Homo sapiens: one gene and its partners. The protein of the gene in region 1 purifies or fractionates together with the protein of each later gene. This does not show direct contact. Each region holds a gene or a part of one and is shown in the gene's direction. Other genes may lie near its edges. The genes, in order: SASS6, EFL1, C2CD5, IGHMBP2, ZC3HC1, RTEL1 and NFIB.

The links.
Region 2: the proteins of SASS6 (region 1) and EFL1 purify together in Homo sapiens (affinity purification with mass spectrometry; one large-scale study listed by BioGRID and IntAct). This does not show direct contact.
Region 3: the proteins of SASS6 (region 1) and C2CD5 purify together in Homo sapiens (affinity purification with mass spectrometry; one large-scale study listed by BioGRID and IntAct). This does not show direct contact.
Region 4: the proteins of SASS6 (region 1) and IGHMBP2 purify together in Homo sapiens (affinity purification with mass spectrometry; one large-scale study listed by BioGRID and IntAct). This does not show direct contact.
Region 5: the proteins of SASS6 (region 1) and ZC3HC1 purify together in Homo sapiens (affinity purification with mass spectrometry; 2 studies listed by BioGRID and IntAct, with this or other methods). This does not show direct contact.
Region 6: the proteins of SASS6 (region 1) and RTEL1 purify together in Homo sapiens (affinity purification with mass spectrometry; one large-scale study listed by BioGRID and IntAct). This does not show direct contact.
Region 7: the proteins of SASS6 (region 1) and NFIB purify together in Homo sapiens (affinity purification with mass spectrometry; one large-scale study listed by BioGRID and IntAct). This does not show direct contact.

What each region holds. Positions count from the first base shown.
Region 1 is NC_000001.11:100,083,070-100,086,462, reverse strand, and holds the end of SASS6 (spindle assembly abnormal protein 6 homolog), read left to right. Parts: intron 1-832; coding exon 833-927; intron 928-1,028; coding exon 1,029-1,135; 3' UTR 1,136-2,893; downstream 2,894-3,393.
Region 2 is NC_000015.10:82,259,300-82,264,336, reverse strand, and holds the start of EFL1 (elongation factor-like GTPase 1), read left to right. Parts: upstream 1-1,602; 5' UTR 1,603-1,723; intron 1,724-1,808; exon of another isoform or gene 1,809-2,200; intron 2,201-2,539; 5' UTR 2,540-2,558; coding exon 2,559-2,649; intron 2,650-5,037. Other genes in the region: SAXO2 (stabilizer of axonemal microtubules 2), read right to left, coding at 1,405-1,457. UniProt on the Homo sapiens protein: GTPase involved in the biogenesis of the 60S ribosomal subunit and translational activation of ribosomes.
Region 3 is NC_000012.12:22,523,415-22,527,876, reverse strand, and holds part of C2CD5 (C2 domain-containing protein 5), read left to right. Parts: coding exon 1-156; intron 157-2,171; coding exon 2,172-2,267; intron 2,268-3,249; coding exon 3,250-3,405; intron 3,406-4,252; coding exon 4,253-4,451; intron 4,452-4,462. UniProt on the Homo sapiens protein: Required for insulin-stimulated glucose transport and glucose transporter SLC2A4/GLUT4 translocation from intracellular glucose storage vesicle (GSV) to the plasma membrane (PM) in adipocytes.
Region 4 is NC_000011.10:68,909,487-68,913,948, forward strand, and holds part of IGHMBP2 (DNA-binding protein SMUBP-2), read left to right. Parts: intron 1-1,953; coding exon 1,954-2,117; intron 2,118-2,899; exon of another isoform or gene 2,900-4,462. UniProt on the Homo sapiens protein: 5' to 3' helicase that unwinds RNA and DNA duplexes in an ATP-dependent reaction. Specific to 5'-phosphorylated single-stranded guanine-rich sequences. May play a role in RNA metabolism, ribosome biogenesis or initiation of translation.
Region 5 is NC_000007.14:130,023,663-130,028,124, reverse strand, and holds part of ZC3HC1 (zinc finger C3HC-type protein 1), read left to right. Parts: intron 1-1,812; coding exon 1,813-1,967; intron 1,968-3,618; coding exon 3,619-3,862; intron 3,863-4,401; coding exon 4,402-4,462. UniProt on the Homo sapiens protein: Required for proper positioning of a substantial amount of TPR at the nuclear basket (NB) through interaction with TPR.
Region 6 is NC_000020.11:63,685,105-63,689,566, forward strand, and holds part of RTEL1 (regulator of telomere elongation helicase 1), read left to right. Parts: intron 1-418; coding exon 419-493; intron 494-686; coding exon 687-768; intron 769-2,533; coding exon 2,534-2,666; intron 2,667-2,832; coding exon 2,833-2,946; intron 2,947-3,034; coding exon 3,035-3,075; intron 3,076-3,196; coding exon 3,197-3,282; intron 3,283-3,423; coding exon 3,424-3,501; intron 3,502-3,950; coding exon 3,951-4,028; intron 4,029-4,397; coding exon 4,398-4,462. UniProt on the Homo sapiens protein: A probable ATP-dependent DNA helicase implicated in telomere-length regulation, DNA repair and the maintenance of genomic stability. Acts as an anti-recombinase to counteract toxic recombination and limit crossover during meiosis.
Region 7 is NC_000009.12:14,114,442-14,118,903, reverse strand, and holds part of NFIB (nuclear factor 1 B-type), read left to right. Parts: intron 1-2,557; coding exon 2,558-2,696; coding exon of another isoform or gene 2,697-2,723; intron 2,724-4,462.

The sequences.
Region 1 (3,393 bases):
ATTTGTAGTATGAAGTCAAACATATCCATCTGTCCATAAAATTAGGACTGTTCAGTGATTTTGAGTTTTTTCTGGTTCTTTTATTTGTCAGCTAGCAAAAAGTGGCACCGGGTATCAAACTTTAAAGAAAAAAATAAAATAGAAAAAAAGTCTGTTCACCCACTTATTTCTGAAAATTGGGTCAAGAGCAACCATCATTTAATTTTAAGGATTGATTTATTCTCATTGTTTTGCAAGAGCCTTTAACTTCTTATTACAAGTAATACTAGGGAAACCGTTAACACTGGATGTATTTAGAAAGGATGGCAGTGGTAGAAAGGGGAAACACAGAAATGCCCTTCTTTCTCCCCCAGATTTTCTCATTTGTATTAATTTGATCAGAATTTATTGTGTAATGTGTGTTAATACTTGATCATGACTACTTTGAAGCACTAGAAAATTTCGAAGAGCTTTTGGTCAAAGGAAAAAGAAATCTTATTTTAAATATGAGTTAGAAATTAATAGTGTTACTCTCAAGGCACGTATTTTTCTGTCATGTATCACTTATGTGCTAGTATTTAAATTTTTATAGCACTTGTAGAATTTTCATTTTTCCCACCATCCTTATCCCAGCTCTTAAAATTTTATTATAATCTACTCTTTACTGAGGATACTTTGGTTTATGTATAAAATTACCATTTGCTTAAGAAACCAGTGAAGAATGTGTTCTGAACAAAGCTAAGCTATAAATAGAACTTAGTTACATTATCTTATATATATGTATACATATGAGATAAACCTTCAAAGTTAATAAAGACTTTGTTAAATAAGTTATTACCATTTTCTTTTTAAGTGGTGAAAATGTAGGGTTGGAATCCAAATACCTGAAGAAAAGGGAAGATAGCATTCCTTTACGCGGACTCAGCCAGAACCTATTTAGTAATTCAGGTAAGCAGGGATTTCTGGATTTTTGTACTTTATAGTTGAATTAAATTTAATGTATGAAGACTTAATGAATACCAGTAACCTTTTTTTGTCCTCATTTGCAGACCATCAGAGAGATGGCACTTTAGGAGCATTACATACATCTTCCAAACCCACAGCGCTCCCCTCTGCGTCTTCAGCCTATTTCCCTGGGCAGTTACCAAACAGTTAATTCTAGTGTCATGTTTTACTTTTTATTGGTATTTTAGAAACTCAGGTGCTTAAAAAATATGTCAACACAAACCAGATCCTCAAATAGCAAGTTTCAAATTTTACTTGAGCTGTTAAAGACTGGATACTTTAAGTACTGCTTTTATGGCAGTTTATAATATAGGAACAAATTTGTACTTGGGGATTGGTAAAGATTGTGAGTAAATGACATTTTTTGGTTTGTGAACATGGCGTTTTATAGAATAATATGAATTTTATTAAGCTATTCTTTAGAAATTCAGTTCTAAGGAAAGAGTTGATCCTTATGAGGGAGATTCTGATCATATTAAAAATCTGGGTAAACTAAAACCTGCTCATAACCTCATAGTATGCAACCAAAGAATACTAATTCATTTTATCACTTTCATTGGTAAAACTTTTAAATTCAACACCTGAAAATCATGAGGGAAAATGATTACCTCTTGAGATATATTATTGATGACATTTAAAGGGAAAAGTCCTAAATTTACCTTAAATAACTGAAATGAATTAAGCCTTCATAGCGTATTTTCCTTGAAGCATTTAAATTTGCTAGTGATGAATCAAATAAATTTGATATACTTAAAATAATTTGGACAGTTTTTATGTGACCAGATTAAGTGCTTTTGTCATTTGAGCTGACAAGTTTTTAAAACTTCAGTGCTTCCTAAATGTTTATACTCATCTAGTTTTTCTCAATTTGTAGTTTTATTATGCAGTTAAATCTGTATCAGTGGACTTTTAAAACTTGGTACTACTACTAAATCTACTATATCATGAATATTCATTTATTTTTATAGTATCAGAACTTGGGTTGATTTCAATGTTAATAAACTAGGCAAAACAAATAACTGTTAGAAGGTACAATTTTCTTCTCTTCCCTGTAACTGAAAGTTTTAAGAATTGTTCCTTGGGGAAAAATTTTTTTAAAATTCACCTAGAATCATAGGGCCTCATTTTGTTTTCTTATTGACAAACAATACCTGGTAGCATTCTCTAAAGAGTCTTCTAGATCAATTTTTATAAAGTACTAATGCTCATGTGATAATTTAAAATTATTTTCAACTACTTTATTACACAGATGAAGAAACATTTCAAGATATTGATGTAATAACATTACTGAGTCCCATGGTAAGAAAGAATCTTTGCTAATTTTTTTTTTTTTTTTACGAAGCCAGTATCTTGAAACTATTGGCAATTGCAAGTGTCTTTAAACTAGGGATCTAATCTGAAAATTCAGTAACTAATATTAGGCAGTTGATACTCCCCCACCTCCCCCATTTAGATACACTACTGTATTAGTGAGAATACTTGGTACAGTAACTTGAAAGCACTTGCTATTCTGGAAAGAAGCCTCTTGGTGATTTTGGAAGGAGCTTTATTGTAAATACTATGGAAGGGGCTTTGTTGTAAATACTATGTAATATATATAAAATATTGTGACATGTTTTGGATGGGATGCATGACATACAGGTAGCTCTCTTTTTTAAAATATAGGTATCTCTTTGCATATATATACACAAGGAAAGTTGAATTTTCAGGAGAGATCATTCTGATATCTTGCAAATTTGTATTAAATGTATACAGACTTCCAAGTGTGCTAATTCTTTACCTCCTAAACTTTTAGTTGCAATTGTTTTGCAGTGTAAAATTGTACATGTGTTAATAATCAAAAAGTGTTGCATTTAATGTTATTTCTGTAAACTTTGAGCTTTGTTAATAAACTATTATGCAGCATCTACACTTTGAAAATCAAGTACTTCAAAACGCATACTGCATTTTTGTTTCTTTCCTCTTGTCTTCCTTGAAGAGCATTTTTTAGTGAGGGAAAAGAAATGGATGCAAAGAAAGAATGAATAATGCTTTGATTTGTTACTGTAAAAATATGGTAACAAAGCCAAAACAGACCCTGTAGGAACTCACAGATCAAGACTTTTTTAAAAAAAAAATCATTAAAATATTTAACTTTATTAACAGAATATTTACATTTCTTTTAAGACCTTATTTAACCATAGTGAGTGTTCCAAGTTTAAAAAGCATTAAGCAATAACCACACACAAGATGAAAACAGTGTAAACTATACAGTTCTTTATATACAATTTTTACAAAGTAACACTTTTTTAAATAATATAACTGGACACAAAAATATACACTTTAGAGAAATTCACATCGGTAATTGTATAAAGCTCTCCTCTAGGGTCCTGAAAATTTAGGACAAACATTAGCTCTGTAAATAAAGTG
Region 2 (5,037 bases), on another chromosome or scaffold:
GTAATCCCAGCACTTTGGGAAGCCGAGGCAGGCAGATCATGAGGTCAGGAGATGGAGGCCAACATGGTGAAACCCCGTCTCTACTAAAAATACAAAAATTAGCTGGGTGTGGTCGCACGAGCCTGTAATCCCAGCTACTCAGAGAGGCTGAGGCAGGAGAATTGCTTGAACCCGGGAGGCGGAGATTGCAGTGAGCCGAGATTGCGCCACTGCACTCCAGCCTGGCAAGAGAGCCAGACTCTGTCTCAAAAAAAAAAAAAAAAAAAAATCAATGCATATGTAAAACAAGTCTTAAAGAACATTTGTTATCTGTGGAAGATAGAATTATGAAGGCGTTTTACAATATTATAGATATTTTTGCTTAGATTTTTATGATACTTCTTGTGTATTTATTGCATTGTCAAAAAATAAAAATAAACCCTTAAAAAGACAAAACTAACAACCACAGCCCAAAACAAACAAACAAGAAGTAAAATCACGCCATTCCAATGGTGGCCCTCAACATAATGAAGACTGAATTTCCTTACAGTTGAATGAGAAAGGAACTTGCGTTGAATATAAATTAGGAGAAAAGTAAAAATTTTCTCCTGCACACCAGTCTGAGGATTCATACACCCAAAGTTAATTTGTTGATATTTTAATCTATATATAATTATGAACTGTGTTTATTATGAGACTATTAAAAAAACTGCTTTCCATCAACATGTAGGTGTTTTCTTTGAATGGGATTACAAATACACCAGGGATTGACAACGTTCATATTTACTTAGCAAATAATGATCTAATCCCTGGGTCAATAGTGAAGCTGAGGAAGGAGAGGACTGTGTTTACAGGTGATGGAAGGTTGTTAGGCAGGACTCACAGTTGGATTCTAGATTTCAGGGTAGGGACTACTTACTGACTTTTCAGTCAGGCGGATCCCAAAGAACTGCTGCCTGGACGGGAATGGGAATATGGTCTGGCTGGGAGGACAGAAAGCTACAGATGAAAGAAAATGTGATATGGGTTGCAGACTCAGGGCCTTGAGCACTGTTCTTTCTCATCTTCGTGGTGGGGGATTATGGGGTGGAAATGCACTCTCCCAGTCGGATCACATCCCACTACTCACCAGCGTTATATCCCGTCGCGGCTTCACATATATTACTTACCTGGCCCGGGTGGCATTTTACTTTGCATCCTTGATTGGGAGTCTCAGGGGCTACGAACAAACGTTTTACCCCCGGGTAGCAGGCGGGTGAGGAGCGAGTATTCGCGGAGCGGGATAAGTGGGGATGTCGCTGCGCCCTCGTCCCTTCATCTCCGGGGGACGGCCACTCTCAGGGTTCCCGAGGAGCCGGCTCCGTGCACCTAGGCCCTAGGTCGGCTCCCAAGCCCGGGCCCGCCGCTACACCAGCCGTTTCTTACCCGCAGCTACAAATCTGACACAGACACCAGCTCCTCATACTCTTGGCTCCCATGCTTTCCTCCACCGCGCCTCAGCACTTGCAGCTTCTCCACTCCCACAGCGCCCGCCGTAGTCAAGGCAACAGAGGGATGCCCGGTGACAGACTCGGCGCCGGCTTCCGGCGGCGTCAGAGACGTGCGGGTGAAAGGTCGAGCGACAGCCGGCCCCGCCCCCTGGCGCGCGGGCGTGTCGGACCCGCAGAGCTCTCGGACTTTCGGAAGCTCTCGGTGTGGGTGCGACCCGAGAGAAGGAGCGGGGCTGGTGGGGCTGCTGCAGCCGGTGAGTGTGGGCTGGCGCTGGGGGCTGGAACCTCCTAGGCCAGCCTTTGGGCGGTGCCGGAGGAACCCGCTCGCTGCGGCTCTGAGGCGGGAACAGGGGCTGGGGCCGAGCGCGGGCTGGGAGCTTCGGTCCCCGGAGTGCCGCTTCCCGTCTGGGGCCGGGGCGGTCGCCTGTCTGTGTGGACCCAGGATCCTCAAAGAGAACGAATCTGGGACCCTGCAGAAATGAAGGGCATGTAGTGTAGAGGTTTTTCCTTTTTATTTAGAAAGGAATGAAAGACCGGCAGTGCACCTGCTTGGATAATAAGCACGTGACCCAAAACTTTGTTCGGGCTCCATGGGCAGGAATAAAGCTGGGTATTTGACCTCGCGCGAGGACGAGCGAGAATGTCAGAATGAGGGACTTGGGGGAAGACTGAAGAGAGAAAGGGAGCATCTTCTTCAGCATTTTCTCTCCCTCCTGGATGCAACCCTTCCTGTACGTGGTCATTGGCCTGGAGATGTTTACTGGAGTACTCCTCCACCGGCAGGGTTACTGGTGTCACTGTGCACCCAGTCCCCTCGAGCTGCGTGATTCATCGCAGCCTTTGGATCCGGAAGGATGAGCAAACTCCTTAAGTGTAATCGTGGTAGGATACTGACTTTAGTGCTCGAACTGGACTTAGGCCTTGGTGGTCTATCTCATCAATAAACATTCACTGGGTTCTTGGTTTAAGGGGTTTGAGAAGCTTGCCACCTCCCAGCGTTTATTATTATTTTTTTCTTTTGCCCCGACCTTTAGCCTCTGGGCCATTTGTAATACATATTTAATTTTTAGTCACAGGAAATAAGTAATCATGGTGCTCAACAGTTTGGATAAGATGATTCAACTCCAGAAAAACACTGCCAACATCAGGAATATTTGTGTTTTGGCTCATGTTGACCATGGTAAGAATACTTTTTAAATGGCTTATTTTGATAAATAAGGGAGATGTGTCTCTGTATGTCTCAGTGGAGTGAAGCTGTGGACAGCTGAGAGTGATGTTTGCTAAGAAGCAAGTCTTCTTTCTTTAAAAGTTTTGTGTGATGTTAGGGAAGCCTGCTTTGCTATAAAGCATTTGAAATGAACACGGTTACCTAGTGAGTAGCATTCTTCTATATATTATGTCATGTTGTTTTTTAAAGCAGAACTTGAATTTTTTGTTTTTGAAATGGCTTTACATATAAAATGTCTGTAGTCTTGACATAATGTCCTTAGAGTCTGTGGTATGTGATCCTATTTAATTCATCAGATATTTATCAAACGTCTGTTAAGTTCAAGATATTTTGCTTAGTATGTCTGAAGGTGGAGATTTATGAGTAGGGCACTAGCCCAGGGGAGGTTTTAACGGGGAGCAGAGCAAAATGAGACAAACAAGAGAAAAAAGTAGACTCTAAGGTTGGGAGAACTAGAGGATTAGGAAGTGAGGGGTTAGGAAAAGACCTCACAACATAATTAGTATTAGAGATGACACTTGAAGGGGGCTCAAGATGACAAATGGAGATAATCATTACAGGTGGGAATGTGTCATCAAGGGGAGAGGGAAATATATGTGGTCAAAGCCCAGTATATGGGAAAGGCAGAGATAGCTAACCCATGGTATGTTCTTCTGACAGATACTGCTGTAACTCCATAGCGCTCCTTCATGCTAAGCCTCCTCTTGATTTCAAACCTCTTGGTAGTTTAGGTAACCACAGCAAAGTGATTGGGATGGGCATATGAAATAAAACATATTTACCATCCTGAAGATGAAGGACCAGTTGGCGAGGTGAAGAAGCAGGCTGAGTCATATCTCATAGAGCTGCTCATGCCAGCTAGGAACTGGGATAAGAGTTGAGTGCTCCAGCTCTGGAGTTAGACAACCTAAGTTCAGATCTCCATTTTCAAGTTACATACCTTGCCTTTTTGAGCTTCAATATACAGCATCTGTAAAACAGGATGAAAACTATACCTGCTTTATAGGCTATAGGATTAAATGTGATAATAATGAGAGGGAAGGTAAACGCTTCACCATGAAAACGATCATTAATGTCTACTATTAGGCAGTAGGGAGCCTTTGGGGGAAAACATGGAGCAGGAATGATGTAATCAAATAAAACATGAGAAAGATTAGATTGGTAGACATGCTTAGGATGGATCCAAAGTCAGAGATTAGGTGGCTGTTGTCATTGATAGAAGAGCTGAAGTAATGTGAGTATGGAAACTGACAGAAAGACAGATAGTGGATCACTTACAAGTGAAGCCAGCTGTGAATGAGTTTTAGTACAAATCCAGTGAGTAACCCCTGCCTCCATGAGTTTTTATAATTTTACTGCTCACATTTTGAGAATGTGAAGGCTGATAAAAGGGTTTTTTTTTTCTTTATGAATTTATTCAAGTGGAAAGTTAGTGGGGTGTAACAAATTACTTTAAATGTATTGTTTAAAATTATGTTAAGCTGCTACTATCCTAAAAAACCTGGGATTCATCCATTCAACAAGTATTTTCTGAAGGTCTTCTATATGACAAGCGTTGTTCTGGTCCTAGGGATACTGCTGTGAATAAAGCAAAGTTCCTGCTTGCTTGATAATTATTTTCTAGGGAGGTATATACTTGGTGTACTTAGAATAAATTCAGCTTTACTGGGTAGCAGGAAAGTGATGCTCTAGGATTATATGCTAATACATATTTACATTGCAGACAGATAGCAGTGTTAAATATCTTCAGTTCTCCTACTCATTGGTCTCTGGTTTGAACAATACAGAGATTCCATAGCTTTGCTGAAGTTCCTAAAGTGCAATAAAGACTTGTCTTGAAGGAAAAAAACCCTCCTTTGCTTACTCCAACCCAGTTGTAGTAATTATGCATACCCCTGACATTCTTTACACAGAATCACCTGTTTATATCACATAAAATCTCATAGACTTTAGTTGTATGTAGTCTGCTTAATAAAAGTAACTATAAATATATTCGAAGATTCTTTTGCTTTAAAGTAGATTCCTAGGTTTAGATTTGGATACTAGGTTTCATTGGTTGTTACAGTATGTTTATGCCCTCCACATGCTATATTACAAACAGTAAGAGATATGGATAATGTTCCTGAATTTCTTTGATAAGTAAGTATTTTCTTAAGACAGTTTAGCAAATTCCAGCTGAGGCCATGCATGGGGAAATATGGCAAAAGAGTATGTTCTCTAAAGTTACTTGACAACTTTTCAGATGAGGTTGAGTAGATCCACAGGGTTGGAGATAAGATTACAGCATTATAGAGTGCTAGCCTCTGTGTCCTTCCAGATGATATTCTGTTCAAAAGTCTA
Region 3 (4,462 bases), on another chromosome or scaffold:
TACAAGATGAACCTTTACAGATCACAGTTCTTGACCATGATACTTACAGTGCAAATGATGCCATTGGTAAAGTGTACATTGATATTGATCCTTTACTGTATAGTGAAGCTGCAACAGTCATCTCAGGATGGTTTCCAATTTATGACACCATACATGGTAAGGAATAATAAGAAAGTATTATAAATAACAATCTTAATCTTTTTTATTTGTCCTTAAAGACATTTGTGCTATATTTGCTGGTTTAAAATATGTATCTTTAGGCTAGGTGCGGTGGCTCATGCCTGTAATCCCAGCACTTTGGGAGGCTGAGGCGGGTGGATCACCTGAGGTCGGGAGTTCGAGACCAGCCTGATCAACATGGAGAAACCCCGTCTCTACTAAAAATACAAAATTAGCTGGGCATGGTGGTGCATGCCTGTAATCCCAGCTACTTGGGAGGGTGAGGCAGGAGAATCACTTGAACCCGGGAGGCGGAGGTTGTGGTGAGCTGAGATCGTGTCCTGTGCAACAAGAGTGAAACTCTAGCTCAAAAAAAAAAAAAAAAAATATATATATATATGTATATAATATATCTTAAGATGATGCCTTTTTAAAAATAAATAATAGTAAATTATTGTTAGTAAAATTGTTGCTTCTCTCAACATAATTTGAGATAATGCTTGCTAAATTTGTATAGTATAGTAAGTAAATGCATGATTTAAAACTGATCTAGTATTGATACTGTGTTTCTAAAACACATTTTCAAACTGATTAATAATGATTTTTGTACTTAAAAGTTACTTAAAAGTTTTTTGTTGCCTGAAGCAGGGCCTCCCGGGCAGTTGCGATTGCAGGCACATGCCATTGCAGGCACATGCCATGACACCTGGCTGATTTTTAAATTTTTTGTAGAGACACGGTTTTGCCATATTGGCTAGGCTGGCCTTAACTCTAGAGCTCAAGTGATCTGCCTGCCTCAGCTTCCCAGAGTGCTGGGATTTGCTTTCTTAATATTTTAGTAGGTAAATTATTGAGTCAGTTTTCTTAAGTCTTCCACCATAAGTATGAATTTGACATGAAGTCAGGACAGTCAAGTGAAAATATTTAGTAAATGTTTAGAGATAAGATCTGGGTCATTCTTATTTATCAGAGCATGTTTTGAAAACCCTTATTCTTGGAATTTTTTATTTACTTAATTTTTTTCTCGCTGTGTTGCCCAGGCTGGTCTCAAACCCCTGAGCTCAAGCTGTCCTCCTGCCTTGCCTCCCAAAGCACTGAGATTACAGGCATGAGCCACTACTCCTGGCTTGGAATTTTTTAGTTAGCTTGCTTTAACTTATATTCATTGAAAAGAATAAAACTTCTTTTGTTTTAAATCAGATTCTTGCATTGTTAAGAATATATAATCTGGGATCATAAAGATCTGAATTTTAATCCTGGATCTGCCACTTAACAGCTATTGACACTGTAAATTACTTAATTTTTATTAAAAATTTCTTCCTTTGTAAAATGGGGATGATACTACCTTATTGGGTTGATGTGACTGCTCTGAGATACTACCTGTAAAGTGTTTAGTACATCGTGTATCAGTGCTCAGCAAATGTTGTCACCATAATCATTATCATCATCATCAATTCAAATGGGACTCCTTTCTAATTAGTCTTGGGTCAAAGTGGAGACTTGTGAAAATGAAAATTATTCATATTCTAATGCATACGTGTTGTGCTTCAGAAAATATACAGAAACTACTGAAAAAGAAAATAACTAGGAAACAAAGCTGGCATTACTATTATGATCAACACATTACAGATGCACCTTGATTTGTGATGGCGTTATATCCAGATAAACTCATCCCAAGTTGAAAATGCATTTAATATATCTAATCAACCAAACATTATAGCTTAGCCTAGCCTATCTCAAATGTGCACCGAACACTTATATTAGCCTACAGTTGGACAGAATCAACTAAAACAAAGACTATTTTTTAAATAAAGTATTGAACATCTCATGTAATTCATTGAATTCTGGACTGAAAGTGAAAATCAGAATGGTTTTGCACCATGGTAAAGTTCAAAAAATTGTGAGTTAAATCATTGTATTTTAAAATCATTATTTAGCATTAATTTGCTTCATTATTTAATTGTACATTACTTTCTTAAGGTAGAAACTTGATTTTCTTTTTAAATTTATAGGTATCCGTGGGGAAATCAATGTAGTTGTCAAAGTAGACCTCTTCAATGATTTAAATCGATTTAGGCAGTCATCATGTGGAGTCAAATTCTTTTGCAGTAAGTAAATACATTCTATTACTCAACAGGAAATGTAATAACTGTTAAATATGAGAAATCAAGTTAACATTTCAGAAGGCAAGTAGAAAAGCTATTGTACTTGGTTTTAATGCCAAAGAGAAAATTGTTAATTTTCTAGAATAGTTACAGTAGTTCTGATTTGAGTATAAATGATATCTAGTTTTTGAAAATTTATAGAAATTTTTATTAGAAAAATCCAGTGACATTTCACTGTAGTATAGGACACTAAAAGAAAGGAGCAGAACACTACGGCTAAGCACTATGGTGCTGTCCCAAAATACACAGGCTTTTATGGGTATTGGGTCTAGGGAACTCCATGAAATATATGGGTCTGAAATGGGCAGATCTTGGTGATCACAGCCCGCCTGCAGTAGTAGGATTGAAATCCCTAAGTAGTTGACTTAGCTTCAGTGCACCAATGTTTATTTTAAGAGACTAATTTGGTACAGATGTATTCAGGTTCTCTCTCTCCTTTTTGAATCTGAACTTGACTCCTCAGGTTATGTCAGAAAGGTAATGGTTTGATTTTTGAAACTGCTATGTGGTGTACAGAAGTACTTTTACAAAGGGCTTTGAATAATTAAAGATTTAAAAAAATTCATTATCTGCTTTCTACCTATTTATATAATAATTAGCTAGCTGACTTAAATTTTGATTTTTTAAACTTTGTATTGAATTCTGTTTAAGGTCTTCTATAGCTGTTTTCCAAATTATACAAATGCAGTTTATATTTACTTTGCTTACATGAGAAAGGTGAGAGCCTCCATGAAAGACAATAATTATTTCTAAAAATGAAATAGATCTTAGAAGACTGGAAGTATTATTATAATTACATTGAAAATATTACAGTAAAAGATGTTCTTGTATTATGTATCTAAAGGTCAGAAAATTGAGATGTACATTTTTTAAAAATTGAGTTTTACCTTTTGATAAACAGAAGCATAATAATTTGTTTTAACAGCAACGTCTATTCCAAAATGCTATAGAGCTGTGATAATTCATGGATTTGTAGAAGAACTTGTGGTCAATGAAGACCCAGAATATCAGTGGATTGATCGAATTCGCACACCAAGGGCATCAAATGAGGCCAGACAGAGACTCATTTCGTTAATGTCAGGTATTTAAAAAAAATAACTTTATTACTGACTGATTTAGTACTCTCTTAAATTTTTTGCTTTCCTTTGACATGCTACCTCAACTTTACAATGAAGGCTATGAATTATAAGTGACTGCATGCCTTCCCCTGGGCCAGTCTTCCTGAACACACTTGCATTGCCCTCTTTTAACAAGTGGAAATGCAAATCAGAAGCTTGTAGTAAAAGGAAATTGTGTTGATGAGGTAGTGTAGTGGAAAGAGCGCTGAGCAAGGGGCGTTCAGGAAGGAACCCTGAGTGGGAACCTGGATTCTAGTTTTCCTTCATCTACCATTTATTTGTCAGAGCTTAAGCAAATCACCTTCTTCTGTCTCTCATACTTTCTGTTCAGATGTTGCCTTTTCACAGTTCCTCCCTAGGTACTGTAGTTCCCTCTATCCTTTTGACCACTTTCCCTGCCACTCTGACCTCATTCCCTTTTTAAATTTTTCTTTGAAAAACTTGTTTACTGTTTTATTTAAAATTTACATTTATATTAAGAGTTATATGTGTATATGTGTGAATATATATTCATACATGTATTTCACACAAAGTATCAATGTTATATTTATATAGCAAATATATTTGTTTTTATTCTATATATTTGTGCTGTATAAGTATATATTATATTTTATAATTATGCTATATTGTAATAGAATTATGTTCTGTATTCTGTAGAGGCTAAACCAGATTATCTTTTAAGTTTCCTTCAAGTTCTGAAAATCTGTGATTTTCTTGGTCTTTTTTTTTTTTTTTACCACTACCATGTCCAGTCTTATAGTATGTAATGTAAAGCTACAAAGCAAGAATGAGATTTCCCATGTTTTGTAGGTGAGCTGCAGAGGAAGATTGGCTTGAAAGTACTTGAAATGAGAGGAAATGCAGTTGTGGGGTACTTACAGTGTTTCGATCTGGAGGGCGAGTCTGGGTTAGTGGTGCGAGCCATAGGAACGGCGTGTACTCTGGATAAATTAAGTAGCCCAGCAGCATTCCTTCCTGCATGTAATTCCCCATCCAAAGAAATGAAGGAGTAAGTATGAA
Region 4 (4,462 bases), on another chromosome or scaffold:
AGTTTTAAAATAATGTTCTTTTTAGTGTATATAAATCTTTTATTTTGAAATGTAATGATATTTCTTTTAGCTTAGTACTTTGTGAAAATAGAGGAAAGCTGATCATACTTTATGCTTGATAGCAATTTTAGGTTGGAAAAATCTTTTTTTTTTTTTTTTGAGACGGAGACTTGCTCTGTCACCAAGAGTGGGGTGCAGTGGTGCGACCTCGGCTCACTGCAACCTCCGCCTCCTGGGTTCAAGTGACTCTCCTGCCTCAGCCTCCCAAGTAGTTGGGATTACAGGTGCCCGCCACCATGCCCGGCTAATTTTTGTATTTTTTAGTAGAGACAACATGGTTTCACCATGTTGGTCGGGCCGGTCTTGAACTCCTGACCTCAGGTGATCTACCTGCCTCGGCCTCCCAAAGTGCTGGGATTACAGGCGTGAGCCACCGTGCCCGGTCTGTGCACTTTTTATGTCCTTTGCTGTTCTTGGAGAACGTCATTTTTGGGAGGAGTTTGTTGTCTCATCCAGTCACTGCCCATGATTTAACAGTCCTGTGAGTATTGGACTTGGCCCATTTGTAAAGCGGTGGCTTTGGCCAAGCCTCATGCAAGGGTTACCCCACAGCTATTTTCTATCATACTGTGCTAGGCAAGCCAGTGTTGTGTTAGCTTCAAACACACAGGACGACTTTGTAGCACTCTTTCAGCATGCAGTCCCTCAAGATGTGTTGTTTTTAAATACTCATTTTCTTTCTGCATTTTCCTTTGGAAATTCTAAATGCAGTCACATTTCAGTAATGCTTTATTTCTATGAAATATTTACTGAAGGGCTCCTATGCGTCACAAACTGAATTAGAAATGTATTTACTGTGTCTTAGGGACTCTGGAATGGCTTGGCTAGAGCACGGGAACGTGGGGTTCAATGGCCTGTTACTAGCTGCACACCCTGCCGTCTTCCATGTTGGCTTCAGTCTCACAAGTCAGGGTCAGCAAACACCCTTTGCTTATGAGCTGCTCCTTATCCGATAGGCGTCTCTGTGTAGTGGGCACCATGTAGCGAATGCCATGGCTGCAGGGCTGAGCACAGCACCACCTGCTCTCAAGAGCACAGCATAAGAAGCAGGTCTTGGCCAGGCGCGGTGGCTCACACCTTTAGTCCCAGCACTTTGGGAGGCTGAGGCCGGCAGATCATGAGGTCAGGAGATCAAGACCATCCTGGCCAACACGGTGAATCCCCGTCTCTACTAACAACACAAAAAATTAGCTGGGCATGGTGGCACTCACCTGTAGTCCCAGCTACTCTGGAGGCTGAGGCAGGAGAATCGCTTGAACCCAGGAGGCGGATGTTGCAGTGAGCTGAGATCATGCCATTGCACTCCAGCCTGGGTGACAAGCAAGACTCCATCTCAAAAAAAAAAAAAAAAAAGAAGCAGATCTTTAGTCTTGGTCGTGGAAGATTCAAAATAGAAACACGATCCTAGAATTTGTTAATCATTGTTTTTGTCATTTGTCTTTATCATTTTATGGGCACTTTAAAGAGGGACATTATGTTAGAAAGGAATATGCTCTAGGAAACATTTCCTTCATTCCTGTTACTCTAGAGCAGGGGTTTTTCCTGTAAAGGGATGGATTGTGAATGTTTTGACTCTGTGGGCCATATCATACGTACCGTCTACAGCTGCCTGCTGTAGACGGTATGTAAATCAATGGGTGTGGCTGTGCTCCAGTAAAACTCACCAAAACCGGCAGCTGACTGGATGTGGCCCACAGTTTGCCGATTCCTGTTCAAGGAGAAACCTTGTGAAAATAAAGCAGACTTAATTTTGTGTTGATTGGGTTGCCCCTGGGGAGGTCCGGCGTGTTCCTGACAGGCATCACTCATCCCCCGGGGCACACACTCTCTGAGGAGGAACACCCACAGAGCTCCCCAGAGCACCTGAGCCTCACGCTGCTGCTTCTTCCACAGACCCGCTGACATTCTTCAACACCTGCCTGGACACCTCCCAGAAAGAAGCGGTTTTATTTGCGCTGTCTCAGAAAGAACTTGCCATCATCCATGGACCTCCTGGCACTGGGAAAACCACGACTGTGGTTGAGATCATTCTTCAAGCTGTGAAACAAGGCTTAAAGGTGGGCAGTGCATGCCACTTCCCTGTCAGAGCCCGTCCGCTCCTGGTCTGTTGTGTTCAGTGGGTGCTCAGCGACCTTTCAGCCTCAGTTCTGGTGGGATGGGTCAGGAACATTACTGAGCATTTATTGATTGAGCCTTGGACTGCCCCTGTTTGATTTCCAGCATCCCCGTGAGTCTTGGGGAGCACGCGCAGGAGCCGTAGCCTGGGTTGTTGAGGAAGGCTCCTGGAGCCCTTTGAGGCGTGGCAGCCTTCGTGTCGGCCAGGCCCTGGGTCAGGGTTTATTTGTTCACCACGCTTGCTGTGCTCGTGCTCCTCCGTGTGCACGCCCGTGCAGGGGCCTGGAGTTGGCCTGGGCCCGGTCTGTGCCCGTCAGGAGCTCAGCGTCTGGTTGAGGTGTTAACAGCTAATCAGATAGTCTGGTTAATGGATACGATGCACATGTCCAGTGCACAGATGAATGATTTTCTGAGATGTGGAATATAACATTGTACATTATTATTCACTTACATTTTAAATTTTTTTTATTTTTATTTTTTGGAGACGGAGCCTCACTCTGTCACCCAGGCTAGAGTCTGGAGTGCAGGGGCGGGATCTTGGCTCCCTGCAACCTCCGCCTCCCGGGTTTAAGTGATTCTCCTACCTCAGCCTCCCGAACAGCTGGGATTATAGGCGTGCGCCACCATGCCTGGCTAATTTTTGTATTTTTAGTAGAGATGGAGTTTCACCACATTGGCCAGTCTGGTCTCACTCCTGACTTCAGTTGATCTGCCTGCCTCAGCCTCCCAAAGTGCTACGATTACAGGCATGAGCCACTGTGCCCGGCCCAGTTACATTTTTAATGGCTGAAAAAGGATCTTTTATCATCATCTGCATCAGCTTGAGTCATTGTGGATCTTGGCACATGGAGAGTTTTTTTTTTTTTAATTTATTTATTTATTTTTAATTATACTTTAAGTTCTAGAGCTTTTTGAAAAAACTTTCTGGTTTATAAAAATGTTGGATAATGATGAGAATTGGAATAATGGCCAGTTTTGTAGTTTGATGTTTACTGGGTGCTGCCTACCACCAGGCATCGTTCTGAGCACCCATTTAATCCTCACTGAAACCCTGTGCCAAGGCAGGTGGTTAGTGGCCCCAGTTTGTAGACAAGGAAGCCGGGTGTGGTGGCTCACACCTGTATTCTCAGTACTTTGGGAGGCTGAGGCGGGTGGGTCACCTGAGGTCAGGAGTTCGAGACCAGCCTGGCTAACATGGTGAAACCCCGTCTCTACTAAAAATACAAAACAATTAGCCGGGTGTGGTGGCACACACCTGCAATCCCAGCTACTTGGGAGGCTGAGGCAGGAGAATTGCTTGAACCTGGGAGGTGGAGGTTGCAGTGAACTGAGATCGCACCATTGCACTCCAGCCTGGGCAATAAGAGCAAAACTCCATCTCCAAAAAAAAAAAAAAAAAAAAAAAAACCAAAAAAACCACGAGGAAACTGAGAAACAAGGTCAAATGCCCAGCACTCAGAGTGGCAGAGCCAGCAATGGAACTCGGGCAGAGCGCAGGGAAGCCTGTCACTTGCTTAAAAGATTACGTCCAGCGGTTTTCCAATGTGTGAGTGTCTTTGCACATGTTTGAAAACTGGTAAGAAAAGATGACTTATTGGAAGGGAGCAGATTGGTGGTTTTAATTGGGTGCCGACTATTCACTAAAAGTGAGCCAAGACACACCTGTGTGCACGCTTTGGTGGAGATATGCCTTTGGACATGCCAGTGGGGTTGGAGGCGATGCTGGGCATAGAGAGTGGGTGGCTGAGCCTCCTTCCTGAGCTGCTGTTTGTTTTGAGCTTAAGGGCCTGTAGAGACTCTGCCTCCTCTGCTGGTTGCCACCTCCTCTTTTTTTTTTCCTCAGAGATGGGGTCTCACTATGTTGTCCAGGGTGGTCTTAAACTCCTGACCTCGCACCTTGGCCTCCCAAAGTGCTGGGATTACAGGCATGAGCCACCGTACTTGGCCAGCGTCTCACTTTTAATAGTGGAGCTGTGGCTGGGTGCAGCGGCTCATGTCTGTTATCCTAGCGCTTTGGGAGGCCAAGGGGGGAGGATCACTTGAACCCAGGAGTTTGAGGTCAGTCTGGGCAACATAGCAAGACCCAGTCTCTACAAAAAATAGAAGAAATTAGCTGGGCATGGTGATGCATGCCTGCAGTCTCAGCTACTTGGGAGGCTGAGCCAGGAAGATAGCTTGAGCCCAGAAAGTCACGAAACACCAGGAGTGTGGTCTAGGTCTTGCTGCTCGCCACACAGAAAGCCAGTTACTGAGGACAAGTATTGCCAAGGAAGAGGCTTTATAATCA
Region 5 (4,462 bases), on another chromosome or scaffold:
GGTGATCTTGGCTCACTGCAACCTCCGCCTCCTGGGTTCAAGCGATTCTTCTGTCTCAGCCTCCCAAGTAGCTGGGATTACAGGCACGTGCGACCACGCCTAGCTAATTTTTGTAATTTTAGTAGAGACAGGGTTTCACTGTGTTGGGCAGGATGTTCTAGATCTCCTGACCTCGTGATCCGCCCACCTCGGCCTCCCAAAGTGCTGGGATTACAGATGTGAGCCACCACACCCGGCCATCATTTTTCAAAGAAAGTAACAAACTCCTTTCTCCTTGTGAGTAGAAATGTTTAAATGCTGTAGTCAGCCCGGGCACAGTGGCTCATGCCTGTAATCCCGGCACTTTGGGAGGCTGAGGTGGGTAGATCACCTGAGGTCAGGAGTTCGAGACCAGCCTGGCCAACATGGTGAAACCCCGTCTCTATTAAAAATACAAAAAATTAGCCGGACATGGTAGTTTATGCCTGTAGTCCCAGCTACCTGGGAGGCTGAGGCAGGAGAATTGCTTGAACCTGGGAGACAGGTTGCAGTGAGCCGAGATCGCACCATTGCACTCCAGCCTGGGCAACAAGAGCGAAACTCCATCTCAAAAATAAAATAAATGCTCTAGTCAATCTGTACTTTGAAACTGAATATTTACTGTTCCATTTAATCACCCTATGGGTACTCCATGAAGACAAGCTTTACTGTAGGAAATAGTAGCCTCTTCAAATTAAGAGAGTGGTATGGGTTTTAGCATCAAACTGTTAACCTCCCAAAGTCCCCTCCAAGTACTAACCAGGCCTGACCCTGCTTAGCTTCCGAGATGAGATGAGACTGGACGCGTTCAGGGTGGTATGGCCATAGACTGAAACTATTAACCTCTGATGCTTATGAATATAACCCTGTCCCTAGCCAAGGCAATTTTTTTTTTCCACCTGGTCATAGTTCCTTATTTTTCTTAGAACAAAAATAAAGTCTAACGAGCTTTGTTGTTCTGTCAAAAAGTAAATTTAGAGCCTGGGGCACAGTGATGTATGCCTGTAGTCCCAGCTACTCAGGAGGCTGAGGTGGGAGGATTGCTTGAGCTCAGGAGTTCAAGACCAGCATGGCCAACATAGTGAGACCCCATCTCTAAAATTTTTTTTTCTTTAATTTTTTTTTTTTTTTTTTTTTGATACGGAGTCTTGCTCATTCGCCCAGGCTGGAGTGCAGTGGTGCAATCTCAGCTCACTGCAAGCTCCGCCTCCCAGGTTCACGCTATTCTCCTGCCTCAGCCTCCAGGGTAGCTGGGACTACAGGTGCCCGCCACCACGCCCGGCCAATTTTTTTGTATTTTTAGTAGAGACGGGGTTTCACCATGTTAGCCAGGATGGTCTCGATCTCCTGACCTTGTGATCCACCTGCCTCGGCCTCCCAAAGTGCTGGGATTACAGGCGTGAGCCACCACGCCTGGCCTCTTTAATGTTTAAGTAAATTTAGTGTCAGGCTAAGACATAAGCAGTAATTTGTCTTCACTATTTGGGTTTGAAGTTTGCAGGTTTCAGGGAAAATCTGCAGCTGGTAAATTGAACAATTTAGTACTAACAAGAGTTTTGGCAGTTCCAGGGAGACTCCATCTTTCTCAGTCAGCAGATTCAGGGCAATTCAGAAAGCTTCTGTGTGATACTATAGCCCTGTCCCTGGAAGTATTTTGTTCTCTGTGAAGAGAAGTATCTTCATGTTTGTAATTTCCTTCCTGATTTTCGGCTTGTACCATCTAGGTATGTTATAATGTGTAATTTTTCTTTTTATGGTGGTTGAAACGAAGTTTTTTACTTGGCTCCCTTGTAGTGCTTGACAGAAGACAAGATCAGTCTTCTCCTACACTTGCTTGAAGATGAACTTGATCACCGAACTGATGAGAGAAAAACTACAATCAAATTAGGCTCAGACATCCAAGTCCACGTCACTGCCTGTATTCTCTCTGTGTGTGGCTGGGCGTGTAGGTGAGTCAGCAGATTTTGCCTGGAGACATGAACCATGACAACAGCATTACACCCATATATATCAGTCACTAATCGTATTTAGAAATCACATGGTGTTTCCCGTGAGAAAAAGAGACAAAGAAAAACTGGGTGGGGGATGGTGCGAGGAGAATGGATAATAAGAATTAGTAACAAAACCAGAATTGGAATTCAGGAATTCTTGGTGTTCACAACTGAACTTTGTTTCTTGTACTGTTGCTTCTTAACTGGGAATTTGTGTTCTCTTTTTTTTTTTTTTTTTTTTTTTTGAGACGGAGTCTCATTCTGTTGCCCAGGCTGGAGGGTAGTGGCGTGCGCGATCTCAGCTCACTGCAAGCTCCGCCTCCCGGGTTCACGCCATTCTCCTGTCTCAGCCTCCCGAGTAGCTGGGACTATAGGTGCCTGCCACACGCCCAGCTAATTTTTTGTATTTTTGGTAGAGACGGGGTTTCACCGTGTTAGTCAGGATGGTCTTGATCTCCTGACCTCGTGTTCTGCCTGCCTCGGCCTCCCAAAGTGCTGGGATTACAGGCGTGAGCCACCACACCAGGCTGAATTTGTGTTCTATAAACAGTGAACCTCCTTTCTAAAAATGGAAAGAAAATAAGCTCTTTTCTATTTTTAAGAAGGAAAAATAGAAAGGAAGTTCTTTTCTATTTTTAGAAAGGAAGAAAAATCCGCTTAATTGATAAAAACTACCATAGGAAACACCAGCTGGAGTCTTCTAGGCCCCCATGTTGCTATTTCCATTCCAGCTGCTCAATTTGGCATAGACTCCCACTATCCTTAATCTACCAAAGAGAGCATATTTAAAATACATCAAGATTGGTTCTGACAGTAAATAAATCTTGATGTATTTTAAATATGCTCTCTTTGGTAGATTAAGGAATGTTTTTTGTTTAAAGGGAAAAGACTTTAAGAGGGACAAGAGAGGGTGGGTACGGTGGCTCACACTTATTTAATCCCAGCACTTTGGGAGGCCAAGGCGGGTGGATCACCTGAGGTCAGGAATTCGAGACCAGCCTGGCCAACATGGTGAAACCCCATCTCTACCAAAAGTACAAAAATTAGCCGGGCATGGTGGCGGGTGCCTGTAATCCCAGCTACTCAGGAGGCTGAGGCAGGGGAATCACTTGAACCTGGGAGGCGGAGGTTGCAGTGAGCTGAGATCGCACCATTGCACTCCAGCCCGGGCAACAAGAGCAAAACTCTGACTCAAAAAAAAAAAAAAAAAAAAAAAAAAAAGAGGGACAGGAGAAACTTTTTGTGTTGTTGTTGTTGTTGGTCAGGCTGGTCTCGAACTCCTGACCTCAGGTGATCCACCCACCTTGGCCTCCCAAAGTGCTGGGATTACAGGCATGAGCCACTGCACCCGGCCGAGAAACTTTTAAAACATGCCTGCAAAACAGTCTTACCATAGAGAGCACACTAAGAACCCGAGGTCTTTCTATGGGAAATATGTGAGAGATGATGAAGTATGAAGCTGGGTCCTGAGACTGGAGCACAGAGGCTCTGATAGGACATGGTGACTGTTCCAGAAATTGGATGAGATAAGGCATACTCACAAGACATTGCACTTAGTCATTTGGAAATGTTACACTTTGAGAAAACTCTCTTTTTCATTCCTATCTAGTTCCTCTTTGGAATCCATGCAGCTCTCCCTGATAACATGTTCGCAATGTATGAGGAAGGTGGGGCTCTGGGGCTTCCAGCAGATTGAATCGTCCATGACTGACCTGGATGCATCCTTTGGCCTGACCAGCTCCCCAATCCCAGGCCTTGAGGGGCGACCAGAGCGCTTACCTCTGGTGCCTGAATCTCCTCGGAGGATGATGACCCGGAGCCAGGATGCCACTTTCTCCCCAGGCTCAGAGCAGGTATTCACTTAGCTTATTTGGGGTGGAATTTTAAACAACATTCTTGGCAAAAGTGTTGTTGGTAGAAAGTTGGAAATTAATTTAGGTGGATAGGCTTCTCTTCCCACTACATTGGTTACGATACCACATAGTGTTTCTGTTCACTAATGGGGAAGCTAAATTCAGCCAGACCCGGTGGCTCACGCCTATGATCCCAGCACTTTGGGAGACTGAGGCAGGCAGATCACTTGAGGTTAGGAGTTTGAGACCAGCCTGGCCAACATGGTGAAACCCCGTCTCTACCAAAAATGCAAAAATTAGCCAGGTGTGGTGGCAGGCACCTGTAATCCCAGCTACTTGGGAGGCTGAAGCAGGAGAATCACTTGAACTCGGGAGGCAGAGGTTGCCATGAGCCAAGATCGCCTCACTGCTCTCCAGCCTTGGCAACAAAGCGAGACTCTGTCTCAAAAAAAAAAAGAAAAAAGATTAAAGAAAGAAGTATTTCTGACCATAATCATTAATATCATTCGTGTACTTCCATTATCTCCCCTTTCCTTCAGGCTGAAAAGAGCCCTGGTCCCATTGTCTCTCGAACTCGGAGCTGGGACTCTTCCAGTCCTG
Region 6 (4,462 bases), on another chromosome or scaffold:
CTCGAACTCCTGGGTTCGGGCAGTTTGCTCCTCTCAGCCTCCCGGAGTGCTGGGATTACAGGCCTGAGCCACTGCACTAGGCCATGTTGAATTTCTAGATTAATTTGGGGCCCTCAGGGGCACAGAGAGGAGGGCTGGGCCAGTTGGCGGGAGGAGAGGCCCCTCGGGCTGCCGCATTTTCAGTGCATGGAGATGGCCTATGTTGGGGGAACACAGAGCTCACCGGGGGTCCCTGCAGGGAGGAGAAAGGGTCAGGCAGGTGCCAGCTCCTGTCCATTGGCCTGGGGCTGCATGATGGCAGGGGCCGGTGAACCGATGACCCCTGGGTGTCCTGTGACCTTCTGTGTATGCGGCTGATGCTGCAGAAAGTCGGGTGGCCTCAGGCTCCTGACGGGGCTGCACTTCCTCTGCCTTTCAGATTGTGTTCAGTGTGGACCCCTCCGAGGGCAGCCCTGGTTCCCCAGCAGGGCTGGGGGCCTTACAGTCCTATAAGGTAGGGGCCACCTCCAGGAGGCAGGTGGAGGGCAGCCCTTGTTCCCCGGCAGGGCTGGGGGCCTTACAGTCCTATAAGGTGGGGGCCACCTCCAGGAGGCAGGTGGGGCTGGGGGTCTTCTGGTCCTAAAAGGTAAGGGGCTGCCCCCAGGACATGGGCGGGGCCTCCACACTCCTGGTCCTGTCCCCTCCAGGTGCACATCCATCCTGATGCTGGTCACCGGAGGACGGCTCAGCGGTCTGATGCCTGGAGCACCACTGCAGCCAGAAAGCGAGGTACAGACCTGGGCCCACACGCTCCCCGCCCGCCCGGGTGCAGTGCCCGGCACCACCATGCCACAGGCTAGGCACATGCCCAGCCGTGGATCTCCTGCCCCCATGGGCCTGGCCACCTTCTCCATATCCAGGCCAATCCAGAGCATTCTCCTCACTGTCCCTCTGAAGATTGGAGTTACTGAGAGACGTAGGAGATGGCCTGATGGCACCGTGACCTGCCCAGAGTCACCTGGTTGGTGGTGGCAGAGCCACAGCCCAGCCAGGCCTCCCTGCTGGGACACGCTCGTTTATGCCGAGGCCGTCAGCACAGAGCCTCCACAGTGAGGCACGGCTCTGCCTGCTGCCTCCACGCAGCGCCTGGCCGGGCCAAGCCTCAGGGTCACATCTGAAGGGGGCCCGGCTGGCCCTGTTGTCCGAAGCCCCTGGTGCGCTCAGCCCCGAGGCCCCACGTGCCTTCTTGGCTTCCTGTGCTCCGTGGCGTCTTCGAGTCGGTGCTGCCGGGGACGCTGTGTGGATGGGGTCTGTGAGTGTGCCCTCGGCTCCGTGTCCGGAGCCCTGTGGTTCTTGGGGTGTATCTGGCCCCACCCCCACTGCGTGGTGTCCAGGGTGGGGCTTCACGGCTGCAGCTGCGGGAGCTGCTGCCCCTGCCTTGTGCTCCAGTGGGGCCTTGCCTCTGGGCTTGGTTCGTCCCTCTCTGGAACATTCTTTCTCAGCTGCTGTCCGACCCATGGTGGCATGACGTGGCCCTGGCTGAAGCAGCCCTTGTGCGGTTGCTGTGGTTGGGTCTGCCTGGCCGAGCCGGAAGGGAAGGGCTGGGAGGGCGTCAGGGTGGCGTGGCTTGACCCCCGCTCGGTGATGGTCCTGCAGCAAGGCCTCTCCCAGCAGGAAGCGTCCATCCCGGGGGGAGGCCGGCGCCCCTCACGCAGTTGGGGTTGCGGGAGGCAGTGCGTGCCTGAGGCAGCCGGTGCACAGATTCCAAGGGCCTGGAATCTGTTTGTTCCATTGACCTCTGATGTCACTTGACTTCTCAGAAGCAGCCACTCCCTGCACTGGGCGTTTGTAGGAAATGAGCTCCTGGAGGAGGGGGTGGGGAAGTTCCCCCATTGCAGGGCACACTCAGCCCCAGGAAGGAAACGTGCCTCGTCCCTGCTGACTCCGAATCGCAGTCAGAGTCGTTCTGCTTGTGCCGTGTTGAATTCCCGGCATCCGGCATCCAGACTCAGCCTCCTCCCCAGGCCACGGCCGCCGTGGCCAGTCGGTCAAGCCCTTCTAGGAACTTCCTTTGAGCTGGCGCCCTTGTTCACTGCTGACGCCACTCAGAGGCTTGTGCACGTGTCCTGCTTCCAGGCAGAGCTGGGAACTCGCACCCCGTCTTCTGCACGCGGCCGTGGAATGTCGGGATGCCGGCGCTTCCTTCCCGTGTGCTCTTGGCGGGGTGGGCTTCTTGCCCTGAGCCGCATGTCACAGTTTCTGCAGAAGTTTAGGGTTGGAGTGGGCTGACCTCTCTGCAGGTGTCCCCAGCCTCTGCCTGGGGTCTGCCTCCTACTCCCAGGACCCCCTGTCCCCCAGAGGGGCCCCAAGCTGGCAGGCTCACACTCAGGGCAGCCTCCTTTGTTCTGACTTCTGCACAGTGGGCCTGGGTGGCTGCCCGCGGCTCGCTTGCTTGATGCCAGTGGGTGGAGAGGGTGATGGGCAGAGAGGCAGGTGGTCAGGCCCCCAGTCCCGTCCTCACACTCTGTGCCCTCTGCCGCCCCCCGCCCCACAGGGAAGGTGCTGAGCTACTGGTGCTTCAGTCCCGGCCACAGCATGCACGAGCTGGTCCGCCAGGGCGTCCGCTCCCTCATCCTTACCAGCGGCACGCTGGCCCCGGTGTCCTCCTTTGCTCTGGAGATGCAGATGTACGGGCCACCCCTGCCAGGGCCTGAGCACCGGTGACACCTCTGACATCAGCGGGGTGGAAGTGGTGGGGGTCCCCATGAGCCGGGTGCTGGGGGTCTCGGGCCTCGAGGGCTAAAGGGGTGCTGGTGCACTTCCCCACTGTCTGCTCCCTCTGGCCACGCTCAGCCCTTTCCCAGTCTGCCTGGAGAACCCACACATCATCGACAAGCACCAGATCTGGGTGGGGGTCGTCCCCAGAGGCCCCGATGGAGCCCAGTTGAGCTCCGCGTTTGACAGACGGTGAGGGCCTGTCCCTGGGCCCTGCTGGGGTGGGAGGTGGGGGAGCACTGAGGCCTGAGGTCCTGAGCAGTGGCCTCTCCGGCTCTAGGTTTTCCGAGGAGTGCTTATCCTCCCTGGGGAAGGCTCTGGGTGAGTGCCCTGAATGCCCCAGCTGTGCCCATCCTGGATCCTGGACCCCTGCTCCCAAGAGCTGGTAGGGAACCCTGCAGACATCCTGCCCCTGCCTTGACCCCGGCCCCTGCACTTCCAGGCAACATCGCCCGCGTGGTGCCCTATGGGCTCCTGATCTTCTTCCCTTCCTATCCTGTCATGGAGAAGAGCCTGGAGTTCTGGCGGGTGCGTCTCCCCTGTGTTCTGGGCGGGGTGGGTGAGGGCAGGGCTGGAGCATGAAGCAGGCAGTGGTCACAGCTCCTGCTTGCCCTCATCGGATCGGCGGCGTGACCAGGGCTGCCGTGTCCCTGCCTCTTCCTCCCACAGGCCCGCGACTTGGCCAGGAAGATGGAGGCGCTGAAGCCGCTGTTTGTGGAGCCCAGGAGCAAAGGCAGCTTCTCCGAGGTCGGCACTTGGCCGGGGCTCTGGGCCTGCTGCCCCCTCGTGCCTCCCCTGCCTCTCACAGCTTCCCCAAGGCTGACCACTGGCCCTGACCATGGGCTCCGGCGGCTCCCGCTGCCTCTTCAGGGCTCCTGCGTTTCCTTCCTGGCCCTGAGTGTTGCCTCTTATCTTACAAAGCCCCCAGCACCGGGTGGGTGTGGTAACAGTGGCCCTCCTGTCTGAGTAGCCCTAGTCGGCCACCCTGGCCCTGGGGTTCCCCGTGTTTTCTGGGAAGCACTGAGCAGGCGTGGGGTCAGCCTGGGATCCGTGCCAGGAAGAAGCTTCCAGAACCCGATTGGCCTTCCTGGCTAGGACGATCCTTCATCTTGGAGCATGAGACCTGGGTCTCCCTCATGGGGGAGGAAGGGGCTGGGGGGGGGCTCCAGGCTCAGCCTCACCAACTTTCCTTCCAGACCATCAGTGCTTACTATGCAAGGGTTGCCGCCCCTGGGTCCACCGGCGCCACCTTCCTGGCGGTCTGCCGGGGCAAGGTGAGCTCTCCAGGGCCCTCTGCCCTGACCTGGTTGCCTGTTCCCTGGTGGGTGCTTATGGCTCCCCAGCAGACTCTGGGCCCTGGGGGCTGCCCGGTCCCCTCCTTGGGTCCCACGAGAGCGACTGCTGGCCCTGCTGGGAGCGTGTCCTGCTCTGGGCCTGGGCAGGCAGGATGGGAGTTTCCTGGCCACAAGAGTTGGAGGTGGCGTCTGGGAGCTGTGGACCCCAAGTGGGGTCCTGACCCACAGATGGAGCTTCCTCCCACCCCTGGTTGGGGACGGAGCCTCGGGGAAGGTGGCTGGGCTGGGTGTGGGCACCAGGGAGAGGAGCCCCCACGGCCCCAGGCAGCTCCCTGGTGTGTCCCCTAGGCCAGCGAGGGGCTGGACTTCTCAGACACGAATGGCCGTGGTGTGATTGTCACGGGCCTCCCGTA
Region 7 (4,462 bases), on another chromosome or scaffold:
CAATTTCTTTATAAGTTAAGAGGGCATATTAGGTGATAATCTGCCTATATTGTTCTCAGTTTTTCTTCACTTTTTCAAGATACATATCACCTTCTAAGGAAGCATATTACTCTCATCTCAAAAAAAAAAAAAAAAGAAAAAGAAAAACTAGCAACAAAAAAACTCTCAGGATTTTGTATAATAGGAACCGTGTATAAAGTAGAATAATCCTTTCCTAATGCTGTTAGCTTCACCTTCAGACAAGACATCTCTCTTTTCTATCTACAGTATGAAAGTTCATCTATTAACAGCCTTAAAAGATAGAAATTTTTAGTGTAGCTTCATCTGTTTGAACCAGTAGAAAACTGAGGAGAAAATAGCCCTCAATTCTTCTCACCCTGAGTTTTAGGAAAGTTGTCTGCATTGACTTGGGAATTCTTTCTTTGTCACCTTTATTCTTTTCAAATGAGAGAAGTGTCTACTAGTTCATGTTGTTCAATTCCAGTAGGTGAAGTTTGTAGAATGGTCAGGGTAGGATAATATATTTGGTGGCAGCATTTCCTTGAAATTATTGTCATTCTGCTCCAGACATTTTGTTCCAGGTAGGTACTTTCAGACTGTTTTGGTGAACACTGTATGTAGAAACATTTTTACCATTGAATGTACCACCAATGATAAAATGAGACCTGTCTTCTTTCTTAAGATATTTAAAGCACTTATTTCCAGTGTTCAGATAACCAGAAATGGATGGCCTGCTGTAGAAACAAACTACTTTTTCCCTTTGAAAGGAAAAATGGGTCTTTATAGTTAACTGCAGATTTTTTTTTTAAGGAACAGTGTATCTGCTTTGATTTTTAACTCCAACTCAAAACCAATTAATTTGCATTTCAAATTAGAATTCTTGGTATTTACCATTTTAGCTTTAGAAATGGAAAAACATCAGTATTCCTTCACCATTCACTTCTAGTCAGCTGTTGCTTCCCAATATTCTCCAGCACTGCACTGATTTTGATTTTTAAGATAAGCAACTGAGATGCCTTTTCCTCCCCACAGCAATTTTGAGATTAATTGCATTACTGCTGCACCAATTATAGTGAGACAGTCATGCTATTCAATGGAATATTTTGAATAAAATTAGTTTAAAGATGTAACTCTCCCATAGGTTTCCATATTGGAAAACTCTGGTCAATTTTCCTGACATCAAGTTAAATACTTAAAATTACCCATGATGAATAATCAGGATATTCAGGAAGTCCATTTTCTTTATAGAATAAATAATGTGGCCTCTGAGGAGCCTAACCGAAGACTTAGTTCATGTCTCTAAGTCACAATATTTAAGTGTTATTAGCTGTTCATCTTTTTCTCTAAATAAATGTCTACTTGTAATTTATGTGCAGATATTTAGAAAAATATTCTGCTTCATTTTTTTTTTGCCTTTAACAGTTCAGATTATAAAGACTATATACTTGCCGAGAATAGCCTCCCAGCAAATTGCGATGAACACCGTGCAGTGGAGAATTCCAACATGGGTATAATCAAAAATAACATTCTCAGTCTAGAAAAATATATTCCACTATTTCTTCAAAGAGTGTATCCTTAGGATTTTGTTTCCTACCACGGAAACTATTTTTGTACCCAGGAGCTAAAACTCAGATAGTAACATCTTTTCTATCATTGCCCAGGGGATTTTCTCAGTTAATTCTCACAAATGTCAACAAGAAATGTTTTGTGTAACTCTCCATGCACCACCATGGATGTAAGAGTAACTCAAATAACAATGCTCATTTGCTTGTCCTCTGCTTCCCCTCAGTACAGTTTAATTTACTTTGGAAATCTTTTATTTGTAGGTGTAAGGACAAACGTAGCTCAGCATTTTATATCATTGTATGACCTCTGAAATTTTAGATGCTTTACATCTTATTCTATCTTCTTGTATTAGTAAATCATCAAAAGTTGACCATAGATCTCGGAATCTAAATTGCCTAATGTGTGCATCTCAGCACACCTGTGTGTAAGAGAGCTAGAGTTTTGTATGCAGGAGAATGGTTCTTGACTGTAAATGATGAAAATTCCAGAATTCGTTGTATTTGATCTCCTAGATATTTTTGTGTCCTTTGTTTCAGTGATATCATCATGTAGGTGAAAATTGTGTTCTAAAAGCCAAAACTGACTCATTATAGAAAATGAAGAGCAGAGAATAAGGAAGCATTGGGTTCCAACTGTAGCTAGTTCAGTAAGGAATTCCATTTTAGCCTTTGGGCTAAGCATTTAAGTCTGCACTTGAGTTTCTTGGCCTACTACATGAAAGGATCAAGTCTACCTGGCTCTCAGGGGTGCTGTAAAGAGGAATTCACCTATACCATGACGTGCTTTGAAGATGAAAACCTTCTTTGAAATGCTGCTGCTCCTTATTACTACCAACCATTGACTGGCCTCTCCGACTCCGACTCGAGAGGGCCTGTGTGGCGCCTATGCGCAGTGTGCTGGATCCACACAGTCGTGTGTGCTGAGTGGACTTGTTGAACAAGATGACTGCCTTTTGGATTGCTTCACCCGGCATTCTGTTTTTGTTTTGTAGCCTAACGGCAGTGGTCAAGTAGTAGGGAAAGTGCCTGGCCATTTCACTCCTGTCTTGGCACCCTCTCCCCATCCCAGTGCAGTGCGACCTGTGACCCTGAGCATGACAGATACTAAACCCATCACTACATCCACTGAAGGTGAGGCAGCTTCACCTACAGCAACCAGTAAGTATTTCCATAGGAAATGAGAAATGTCCATCAGAGGCACCATTGGATATCTGATCCAAGGTGGAAAACACGGCAATTTTTCCAGCTACCTGACCAGATGGAGATTTCTCATTTAAGTGGAGCTAGCAGGCATGGATGTGGCCCTGCTATCACAGGCTCTCTCTTCTCAAATTCCAGTCAGTGAATCATATTTGAAAAGGGAGAAGCTCACTTGTTTAAGTTAACAGCTATAACAAAAATAATAAGTCATGCCTGCTTGTTCAAGGTATACATTGAAATTGCACTGAGTAACATAACGCAGAATACAAAGTTTTCGTATCACCCAAAGAGAGATTAGGTAATTGGTACTTATTGGAGCATTCCTATAGAAATCAAGCCCCTTCACAAAGCAGATGGAATCAGTGCCTCTGTAAGGTAATTGCATGTTTACATCATTGTAGGTTATGTCATTGTTAAAAACAGTCGCATAAGGTTGGGAACAGATGAGGACATTTCAAAACTTAGTATTAGGCACATGTAAGCTACCTGTACTTTCACTATCTGCAAGCTTTTTTTTTAAAACCTTTTGATTATTTTGCTTATCATTGGTACATCAAATACTGTGCTTTTTAGTGTGGCCATAACATTTAAATGTCAGAGATTTAGCCAGTGAACCTTCCTAACACGTACCAATAAGCCGCATCATTCCTTTGTTTTTTCATGTAAAATACTTAGAAGTATAGAAGAAATTAATTTTGAGGTGGTTTCACCCAACTGTCAGCTTCTTAGTACTGGAGCTGGAATGTACAAATTGGTGAAGTAGAATGGATAAAGCTATCGAATTGGTGGAATTAGCATGCACCTCACCAATTATACAGATATCTTCAATTCAAACCTTTTTTTTTTCTTTCTTAGAGCAAGAAAATCCCCATGATCTTGAAATTTCCATGTGAATCAGAGACAATCAGAGGCATGCACCACTCATTCTTTCTCAGCCATTGGAAAGATGCTCTTTTTTTTTTATGGTTTCTGAAAGACTAGGAAGGAACCCTATAAGAAAAATGGACAATACTTTGTACAGTGAATTCAGCATTTCTTTCTCAAAATTCATGAGCCCCGTCAATTAATAAGTTCCTATAGGCTTGTAATACCCATCAGTAATTCTTAATGCTTAGAATACTTCCCTGAATGCACAGATGGATGCGACCTACTCAGGAAAAACTAAAAATTATTTTGTTCTAGAGGTTTGCTATGTGCATTACAGTCACCAAAACACTAAGTACTCATTTTAAAAGTGGATGTCTTCACATCTTTGAGCAAACAATGTCAGCAATTTAAATAAAAGCACACAGAAAACAAAGATTTTTTTTTAAGTAGTTGAAAGATTATCACAGGATAAATGGTCAAAACCAAGTTCTAGAAACTCTGATGCCTACTCTTGTGGTGTTATTAATAGAAGAGATTCAGGAGAGGATCAGACCCAAATGATCACAGTTCACTTATAGGAGTACCCTCAGCCTGTTTGTTAATGAATTGTTTTTATACTTACATACAGGTTGTTCAAAAAGGGATCTGATTTGACTAGTAAAATTACAAAATATTCAAAAGGAGTATCTTGGTTGTATAAAGATGGCTGCATCAGTCCATTTTCCACTCCTACATAAAAGAAACATAGTGAGTAGTTTTTCTTTCCTATAAACAAGCTTGTAGCTCCAGCTTCTTAGGCACCACCAGTAATAAAAAACTGGTCATTGAAT